2 separate regions of the Homo sapiens genome follow, and region 1 is linked to region 2. Evidence: fine-mapped expression QTL. A gene starts in region 2. The other region holds a variant in brackets. All regions are shown on one strand. Distances are between the middles of the regions. Region 1 overlaps LPCAT3 (lysophosphatidylcholine acyltransferase 3). Region 2 holds the start of EMG1 (EMG1 N1-specific pseudouridine methyltransferase).

Region 1 (4,000 bases), 37 kb before region 2:
AGTGCCCAGTAATCTGTTCTAGCAAGCCAGGTTATACTTATTACTCTAGAGTTTGAGGATTACTAATTTAGCATATTTCTTCCGGTGCCTATTTTGTAGTACTTGATGTCCTGATAGTACCTTTTTGGAATGTCATTGGCCAGGCGCGGTGGCTCACGCCTGTAATCCCAGCACTTTGGGAGGCCGAGGCAGGCAGATCACCTGAGGTCAGGAGTTGGAGACTAGCCTGGCCAACATGGTGAAACCCATTTCTATTAAAAAGATAAAAATTAGCTGGGCATGGTGGCACATGCCTGTAGTCCCAGCTACTTGGGAAGCTGAGACAGGATAATCGCTGGAACCCAGGAGGCAGAGGTTGTAGTGAGCCGAGATTGCACCATGGCACTCCAGCCTGGGTGACAGAAAAAAAAAGAAAGGTCATTGTATCCTGTACTCTTTGGAATAAACAAAACTCTTAGATTCCTTATGGTTTAGTTTTTCCCATTTGTAGGCCTGACAGATAGGAAAGTTGGGCCTACAAAAATTGAGTAACTTGCTTAAAGTCACATTCAGTTCTGCCTGACTCCAGAGTTCCTGCTCTGGATGTTATCTGAGGAATAAAGAGATGTTGTTGTTATTATGTTCACATTGTTATTATGTTCACATTGTTATTATGTTCATTATCATGATCATCACATACACCATCTGTTTCACACTTTTGATAAGAAGGTTAGATACAGAGGAGTTGTGTTTTTTGTTTTTTTTTTGAGATGGAGTCTCACTTTGTTGCCCAGGCTGGAGTGCAGAGGTACAATCTCAGCTCACTGCAACCTCCACCTCCGAGGTTCCAGCAATTCTCCTGCCTCAGCCTCCGGAGTAGCTGGGATTACAGGCGTGAGCCACCACACCCAGAGGAGGAATTTTTTTAATAAGGTTATTGGACTAATGGCTCCATCTTTTTTGTGTTGCATCAACCACCTTAAGCAATATAGCATTCTCCTGATTGATCTCCTTACGTTTCTTAATATAAGTAATAAATTGTGACTTGTAGCTTTAACAAAAATTAGGTTCCCTAGTTGCAGCTGCCAGGGAAAGCTAGTCTAATATCAAAGCAAACCATCCTTCTTCTCAAGCACAGAGTTTTTAAGATAGGAGTGTGTGTGTATTGACATTTTCCTAGCAGTGGCTGAAGTCAAGGACCAGGAGATTTAGGGCCCACTTGGAGTTCTTATGGTGAAACAGTAGTAGCTTCCTAGAGACCTTTAAAGCTTATCTGTAATTTGTATAGTTCAGAAGATACTGTATACATCATTATTTCTCCCTGCTTTCAAAACAGGAAGGGGGTGTGGAGAGTAACACACTAAAAAAAGGATAAGTAATTAATTTCTGGGTAAGAATTTCCTTTTGGCTTAAAATGGACTGATGGTGTAAGTTCCTCCCTTTGCAAGCAGAAGCTTTGAAGATAGTGAGCTAGATGAAGCTCTGGACATCTTGAATGAAGTATTCTGTATAAGAACCAAGTGTATAATAACTGTTAGTAATAGAGGCTGCTCATAGAAATGTCATTGCATTATAATTGTAGGGACAGTTTGTCAGAGAGTAGGTAGAAGATTATCAGACCCAGGTTTTGTTCTTGGCTCACATGAAGTCATCAAGTAGGCTATTTAAATGCTTCACTTTAACCATAGGCTAAGATTAAATTAAAAATAAAAAGCTTTTGTCATGGCCGGGCACAGTGGCTCATGCCTGTAATCCCAGCACTTTGGGAGGCTGAGGTGGGTGGATCACCTGAGGTCAGGAATTTGAGACTGGTCTGACCAACATGGTGAAACCCTGTCTCTACTAAAAATACAAAAATTAGCCGGGCACGGTGGTGCACGCCTGTAATCCCAGCTACTCGGGAGGCTGAGGCAGGAGAATCGCTTGAACCTGGGAGGGGGAGGTTGCAGTGAGCCGAGATCGTACCATTGCACTCCAGCCTGGGGGACAGAGTGAGACTCCGTCTCAAAAAAAAAAAAAAAAAAAGCTTT[TG/G]TCAATTAAAGATGCTTGTCAGTACTGAGTATTCATGTTGCTATGGCACTTTTATAAGAAAACTGTACACGGTCATATCTGCTTCCGAAAATAATACATAGTGAGATAGTAATTTTACAGGCAATTAAGAATTTGCTGGCCAGGCGCGGTGGCTTACACCTGTAATCCCAGCACTTTGGAAAGCCAAGGTGGGTGGATCACCTGAGGTCAGGAGTTTGAGACCAGCCTGGCCAACATGGCGAAACCCTGTCTCTACTAAAAAAAAAAATCCAAAAAATTAGCCGGGCATGGTGGCAGGCGCTTGTAATCCCAGCAACTTGGGAGGCTGAGGCAGGAGAATCACTTGAACCCGGGAGGCAGAGGTTGCAGTGAGCCGAGATCGCGCCATTGCACTCCACCTGGGCAACAAGAGCAAAAACTCCGTCTCAAAAAAAAAAGAATTTGCTATAATAGAAGATCCATGTGTACATTCTGTATGCAAATCTTAGGAAGATATTAGATCCCAGAAGGTTAAAGTTCCGATCTCTATATATTTGTATATGCTTTAAGGAGAAGTGGCATCCATGTAGATGTGGTAAATGGCTTATAACTCTCGAGGTTTCCAATTTCTGCTGTGGTAGCAATTCTAAACTCAGATGGACTTGGACACTACTCTGGATTACTGTCCCTAAATATCAACTACTGTTTATAAGCCAGCAGAGGCCAACTGAAATAGTACACATAAAGTTCCTACAGCATATCCCTCAGTCAGAAGTGGAAAAGATTGATTAAAGTTGGAGTATAAACATATGGGGCCCTGACCAAAAATATTGAACCGTACTACTAGAAATCCCCATTCTTTAGCTAAAGGATAATCTGACTTCACTTTTAATTCTTCATTGACTATTGGTGCTCTGAAAGAATAGGAAATAATAGCAAAACATGGGAACTCCTAGATAGCATACATTTATTTTTAAAATGTATACCATCGGCCAGGCACCATGGCTCACGCCTGTAATCCCAGCACTTTGGGAGGCCAAGGTGGGCGGATCATTTGAGGTCAGGAGTTGGAGACCACCCTGGGCAACATGGTGAAACCCCATCTCTACTAAAAATACAAAAACTAACTGGGTGTGGTAGCACACACCTGTAATCCCAGCTACTCAGGAGGCTGAGGCAGTAGAACTGCTTGAACCTGGAAGACAGAGGTTGCAGGGAGCCAAGATCACGCCACTGTACTATAGCCTGGGAGAAAACAAACAAAAAACATATGGTCAACTTCCCAAGTAAACTGACCAATGTCAGTTTAGGTTCAGTCTTACTGTAGGAGTGCCTGCCGTAGGCCAGCGCCTCTCAACCTTTCCACTAAGTACATTAAGATCCTAACAGTAATCATTGGGACCCCAGGTCATCGTCTCAACAGAAGCTCCAGATTTCTTCAAGTCTTGGCCCTCTTGTTTTATATCAAAATTTTATGTATATTATTTTTATATTTTCAAAAATTCTCCCCAGATCATCAAGTAATATTGAGATGCTGACATAGAAAAAAGTAGATTTCCAGCTGGTATGATCAGTGATAAATTGGACTTCATCAAAATTAAAAGCTTTTGTGCACCAAAGGATACTATCAAGAAAGTAAAAAGCTATCCCACAGAATAGGAGAAAATATTTGTAAATCATAAGTCTAGTATTCAGATGTCTAAAGAACTCTTAGAATTCAACAATAAAAAGATAACCCAGTTTACAAAATGGATATGAATAGACAGTTCTCTAAAAGAGACATATACATGGCCAATAAGCTCGTGAAAAGCTGTTTAATATCTTTAGTCATTAGGGAAATGCAAATCAAAACCACAATGATATATCATTTCACACCTACTAGGATGGCAATAATCAAAAACACACAAACAGATGTTGGTGAAGATACGGAGAAATTGGAACCCTCAAGCATTGCTGGTGGGAATGTAAAATGGTGCAGCCACTTGTGGAAAATAGTTTGTCAGTTCCTCAA
Region 2 (4,525 bases):
TTGCAGTGAGCCAAGACTGTACCACTGCACTCCAGCAAGACCCTGTCTCAAAAAAAAGAAAAAAGAAAGACTGGCATGAGCAAAGGTACAGATGGAATCAAGACAAAGTAGCCAGGTGTGGTGGCTTATGCCTGTGATCCCAACACTTTAGGAGGCCGAGGTGGAAGGATCACTTGAGCCCAGGAATTTGAGACCGGCCTGGGCAACACGGTGGGACCCTGTCTCACAAAAAAAAAAAAAAAAATTAGCCAGGCGCAGTGCCATTTGCTGGCAGTCCCAGTTACTCAGGAGGATGAGGTGGGAGGACTGCTTGAGCCAGGGAAGTAGAGGCTGCAGTGAACCATCACACCACTGCACTCTGTTGCCCAGGCAACAGAGCAAGACCCTATCTCAAAAAAGAAACAAAAAAGAAAAAGTGGAAACGAAGAAAGGAAATTTTGAGGAAAATTGGGAGCTGAGACACTAAAGGGCAGTGATTATATATGAAGCTGCTTTGTAAACCACAGAATCCTAATGTATCAAGCACAAAGCCAAAAATAATTCTGGAGTAAGCAGGGCAGGATGGGAATGACTGACAGACACTATCCTAACAACTCTCTGTACACTGGAAAAGACATCAGAAGTTTGATGTTAAAGAAGTGGACTACATCTGTAGCAGCTAAAAGAAATAATTCCAAGTTGCAATTTGGAGTCCCAAGGAGCATTAGGGTGGTCAGTAAAAAGTCTAAAAACAAACTGTTATATACAAATACAAGTTTTGGAAGGTTAAGTTTTTATGTATCACTGGAATGTATATGTCTAGCAACATTCTTGAGATATATGGCTCCAAAAAGTCTGCGAAAAAAGGGATGTAGATTTTGAAATTGAATAGTTGAAGTAATGTCACAGAGAGCACAAAGAACAAATGACCAAGAACTAAGTCCATGAGACACCCTTAGTTATAGAAGAAAAAAACCTTCTTGAATGAATAATACAGTTTCAACCCATTAGTAGGATATAATCATGTTTTCTATTCTTTTAATAGATTACAGGCGCAGGCCTGTAATCCCAGCTACTCTGGAGGCTGAGGCAGGAGAATCGATTGAACCCGGGAGGCGGAGGCTGCAGTGAGCCAAGATCGTGCCACTGCACTCCAGCCTGGTAGAGACTGAGACTCCATCTCAAAAAAAAAAAAAAAAAAAAGTGTATTTAGAACGAAGATTAAAATCCTGGCCTGACTTCTAAACCAATGCGATTTCTTCTGGGCCTATTCAATTAGTTCTAACGGGTAAGAGAAAGGAGGAGGAAGAACACTGCCCAAGGCTTTAAGATAGAGAACTGCTGGTTCTATTACATGTGGGGAAAGAGATGAATGATAGATAAAAATGCAGATGTAAAAGTTTTAAATAATAACCAGGTCTGGACAGTGTATCATAGGTGGATATTAGAGAGAGGTGACTATGGATACTAATGAATTGAAACACGAAGCCCTTACAAAAAGTGTGGGCAGACTAGGCTACATAACTACGTTTCTCATCTGCCCAGTAACTTGTCTTGGGATGTGGAATGACGCAAGGAACGAAACTTTCCTCTGCTTAGACTACTATACCACAGAATCCTGGTAAACCAATTGGAAGCAAGGAGGTGAGGGCTAGAATATCATTCAAAAAGAGCAAAAGAAAATGAGTACTACCGGCCGGGCACAGTGGCTCACGCCTCTAATCCCAACACTTTGGGAGGCCGAGGCGGGCGGATCACTTGAGGTCAGGAGTTCGAGACCAGCGTGGCCAACATGGTGAAACCCCATCTGAACTAAAAATACAAAAAAATTAGCCGGGCGTGGTGGCACCTGCCTGTAGTCCCAGCTACTCCAGAGGCTGAGTCAGGAGAACTGTTTGAAGGCGGGAGGCAGAAGTTGCAGTGAGCCGAGGTCGCGCAACTGCACTCCAGCCTGGGCGACAGAGCGAGACTCCGTCTCAAAAAAAAAAAAAAAAAGAAAGAAAAATGAGTACTACCATCCCAGGATGTCAAATCAACGCAAAGCCAACCAAGCCACCTTCCTTCAAAAGCATCTTTCACCCCTCTCTGCTTTCTACATCCACTCTGGGCCCCTTACCCTCATTCCACGGAGTCCCAACCTATCGATTTACTACTTCTCCACTTCCTGTCCCAAACTACCTTGACTGTCTCCAGACTGGCCCCTTCCAGCACCACAATAAGCCTACGGCCTCCGATCTTGTTTCCTGCCCCTAGTCGGGGCCGCTTGGGTGGCAGAGCATCCCAGTCCTGTGCCTGCTCCCCACCGCTTCGTTCACGAGGCTTGAATCCATCACTGGGCGCGGCCATCTTGCAACAATACCGGAAGTTGCGCTAACGCTCTTAAATAAGAACAGCGCGGCTTCTAATCACAAATTTCCTTCCGGCTGCCATTTTGAAAGTGGGCCAGGAAATGGAGATGACTTGCTGTCTTGCGCTGCCCTCCCTGGGAGGGCAGCCTTCCAGAAAGGGGCGGGACTTCCGTATGCGCGATTCCTGTGCGCGAAGTTCGGGTCCGTAGTGGGCTAAGGGGGAGGGTTTCAAAGGGAGCGCACTTCCGCTGCCCTTTCTTTCGCCAGCCTTACGGGCCCGAACCCTCGTGTGAAGGGTGCAGTACCTAAGCCGGAGCGGGGTAGAGGCGGGCCGGCACCCCCTTCTGACCTCCAGTGCCGCCGGCCTCAAGATCAGACATGGCCCAGAACTTGAAGGACTTGGCGGGACGGCTGCCCGCCGGGCCCCGGGGCATGGGCACGGCCCTGAAGCTGTTGCTGGGGGCCGGCGCCGTGGCCTACGGTGTGCGCGAATCTGTGTTCACCGGTGAGCAACCTCCGCCTGCTCGCCGGACGCTTCCAGTCCCTCCCCCAAACCCCTTGCCCTGTCCCCGCGCCCCTCCACGGGCCTAGCATTTCCTCTGAGCAGCGGCCTGGCCTGATCACCACCCATCTCCCCACAGTGGAAGGCGGGCACAGAGCCATCTTCTTCAATCGGATCGGTGGAGTGCAGCAGGACACTATCCTGGCCGAGGGCCTTCACTTCAGGTAATGGCGGGCAGAGCCTGCTGACCCTGACCTTTCACCCTTGACGCCGACCCAGCAGTGGCTATAGTCGGACGTGCAACAGGATTCAACGCTGCTCTTTTCCCACCCTCCTCATCCCTGCCCCTAGGATAGTGGGTGCTGCGAGAACCTCCAGCAGCATACAAACTGTTGTTTTCCAGAGGGACAAGAGAATCTCTCCTTGTCTGTGGTCGTGGAGAGGAGCAGGCCAAAAAACGCGTGGTGAGGGGAAACCGGGCAAGGCTAGTGAAACTGCGGCCTTTTCTTTTTTTTTTTTTGGAGAGGGAGTCTTGCTCTGTCGCCCAGGCTGGAGTGCAGTGGCGCGATCTCGGCTCACTGCAACCTCCGCCTCCTGATTTCAAGCGATTCTCCTGCCTCAGCCTCACGAGTAGCTGGGATTACAGGCGCCCGCCACCACGCCCGGCTAATTTTTGTATTTTAGTAGAGACGGGGTTTCACTATGTAGATCAAGCTGGTCTCGAACTCCTGACCTCAAATGATCCGCCCGCCTCGGCCTCCCAAAGTGCTGGGATTACAGGCGTGAGCCACCGCGCCCGGCCGAAACTGTGGCCTCTTAATACCTATCCCTGTCCTCTCCAGGATCCCTTGGTTCCAGTACCCCATTATCTATGACATTCGGGCCAGACCTCGAAAAATCTCCTCCCCTACAGGCTCCAAAGGTAGGTCTGAGCACTTGGTAATCACATGGCAGGTGGGATGATCAAGGTAGCTGGCAAGAAACCCCAGGGGAATATGGTAGTGTCAGGCCTTTAGGCCTCTTTCCACATCTGCAAGAGCTGTAACAAAAATACCTGCCTCCTGGGGTCAAAGCAGCAAATTCTGAACACACTGTGTTTGCGTGCTTTTTACTGTCTCCTCCCTGACGTGTATTCAATAAGAGTATTGTTTGTCCCTCGTCTTGTTCACTGCCTAGATCAAAGCTTTGTTTTAAAGCCTTTTTTTTCTAACTGCTTGACTTACTATATCTACAGTTACATCCACTAGTACACTCTGTTCTGGAGAAGTTTGTCCCTAAGCTTGACTAGTTCACCTGTTCTCTCCTTCTAGACCATACATAAAAGCCGTGCCTTTGAGTTCCCCAGACCTCTTCCTCCTCCCCACCCACGCACACATATACACCCTGGGTCAGGTAGCTCACCTGTAACCTGTAATGTACTTCTTTGTGCTATACCTAGTGCAGGTCGCTTATTCATTTACTAGACTGGGCCCTGGGAATAAAAGATTCATTAAACACAATTCTTGTCCCCCAAGTCCTTACAGGAGACATGATTACGGTACAGCACGAAAGCGCCCACGTTAGAGGTTGCACAGAGTACAGAGGGGGAAAGAGTAGTCAGCTCTGCTGGTGACGGGGTTTGCAGTTCAAGGCTTCACAGTGGGTGAGGGTGCATTTCAGCTGTGCTGCGTCTTGTCTTCCTTGTCAGCCTGATTAA

What was found. PIP is the estimated chance that this variant, and not a neighbour inherited with it, causes the effect.
Region 1: its variant is fine-mapped to the expression of EMG1 in whole blood (TOPMed, PIP 0.97).

Annotation. Positions count from the first base shown.
Region 1 is chr12:7,005,498-7,009,497 of GRCh38, reverse strand. The region is part of intron 1 of LPCAT3 (lysophosphatidylcholine acyltransferase 3); the gene reads left to right. Among named protein-coding and RNA genes, the nearest start is that of LPCAT3, 11 kb to the left of the region's middle. The variant TG/G (reference allele first, on the strand shown) is at 2,010.
Region 2 is chr12:6,968,724-6,973,248 of GRCh38, reverse strand. EMG1 (EMG1 N1-specific pseudouridine methyltransferase) reads right to left here and starts at 2,336. Exons shown (of 6, transcript NM_006331.8): 1 at 2,158-2,336. The coding sequence starts at 2,325. It overlaps PHB2 (prohibitin 2), which reads left to right and starts at 2,585. Exons shown (of 10, transcript NM_001144831.2): 1 at 2,585-2,832; 2 at 2,969-3,053; 3 at 3,672-3,751. The coding sequence starts at 2,706. RefSeq lists enhancers at 2,029-2,148, 2,199-2,378, 2,469-2,538, 2,059-2,661.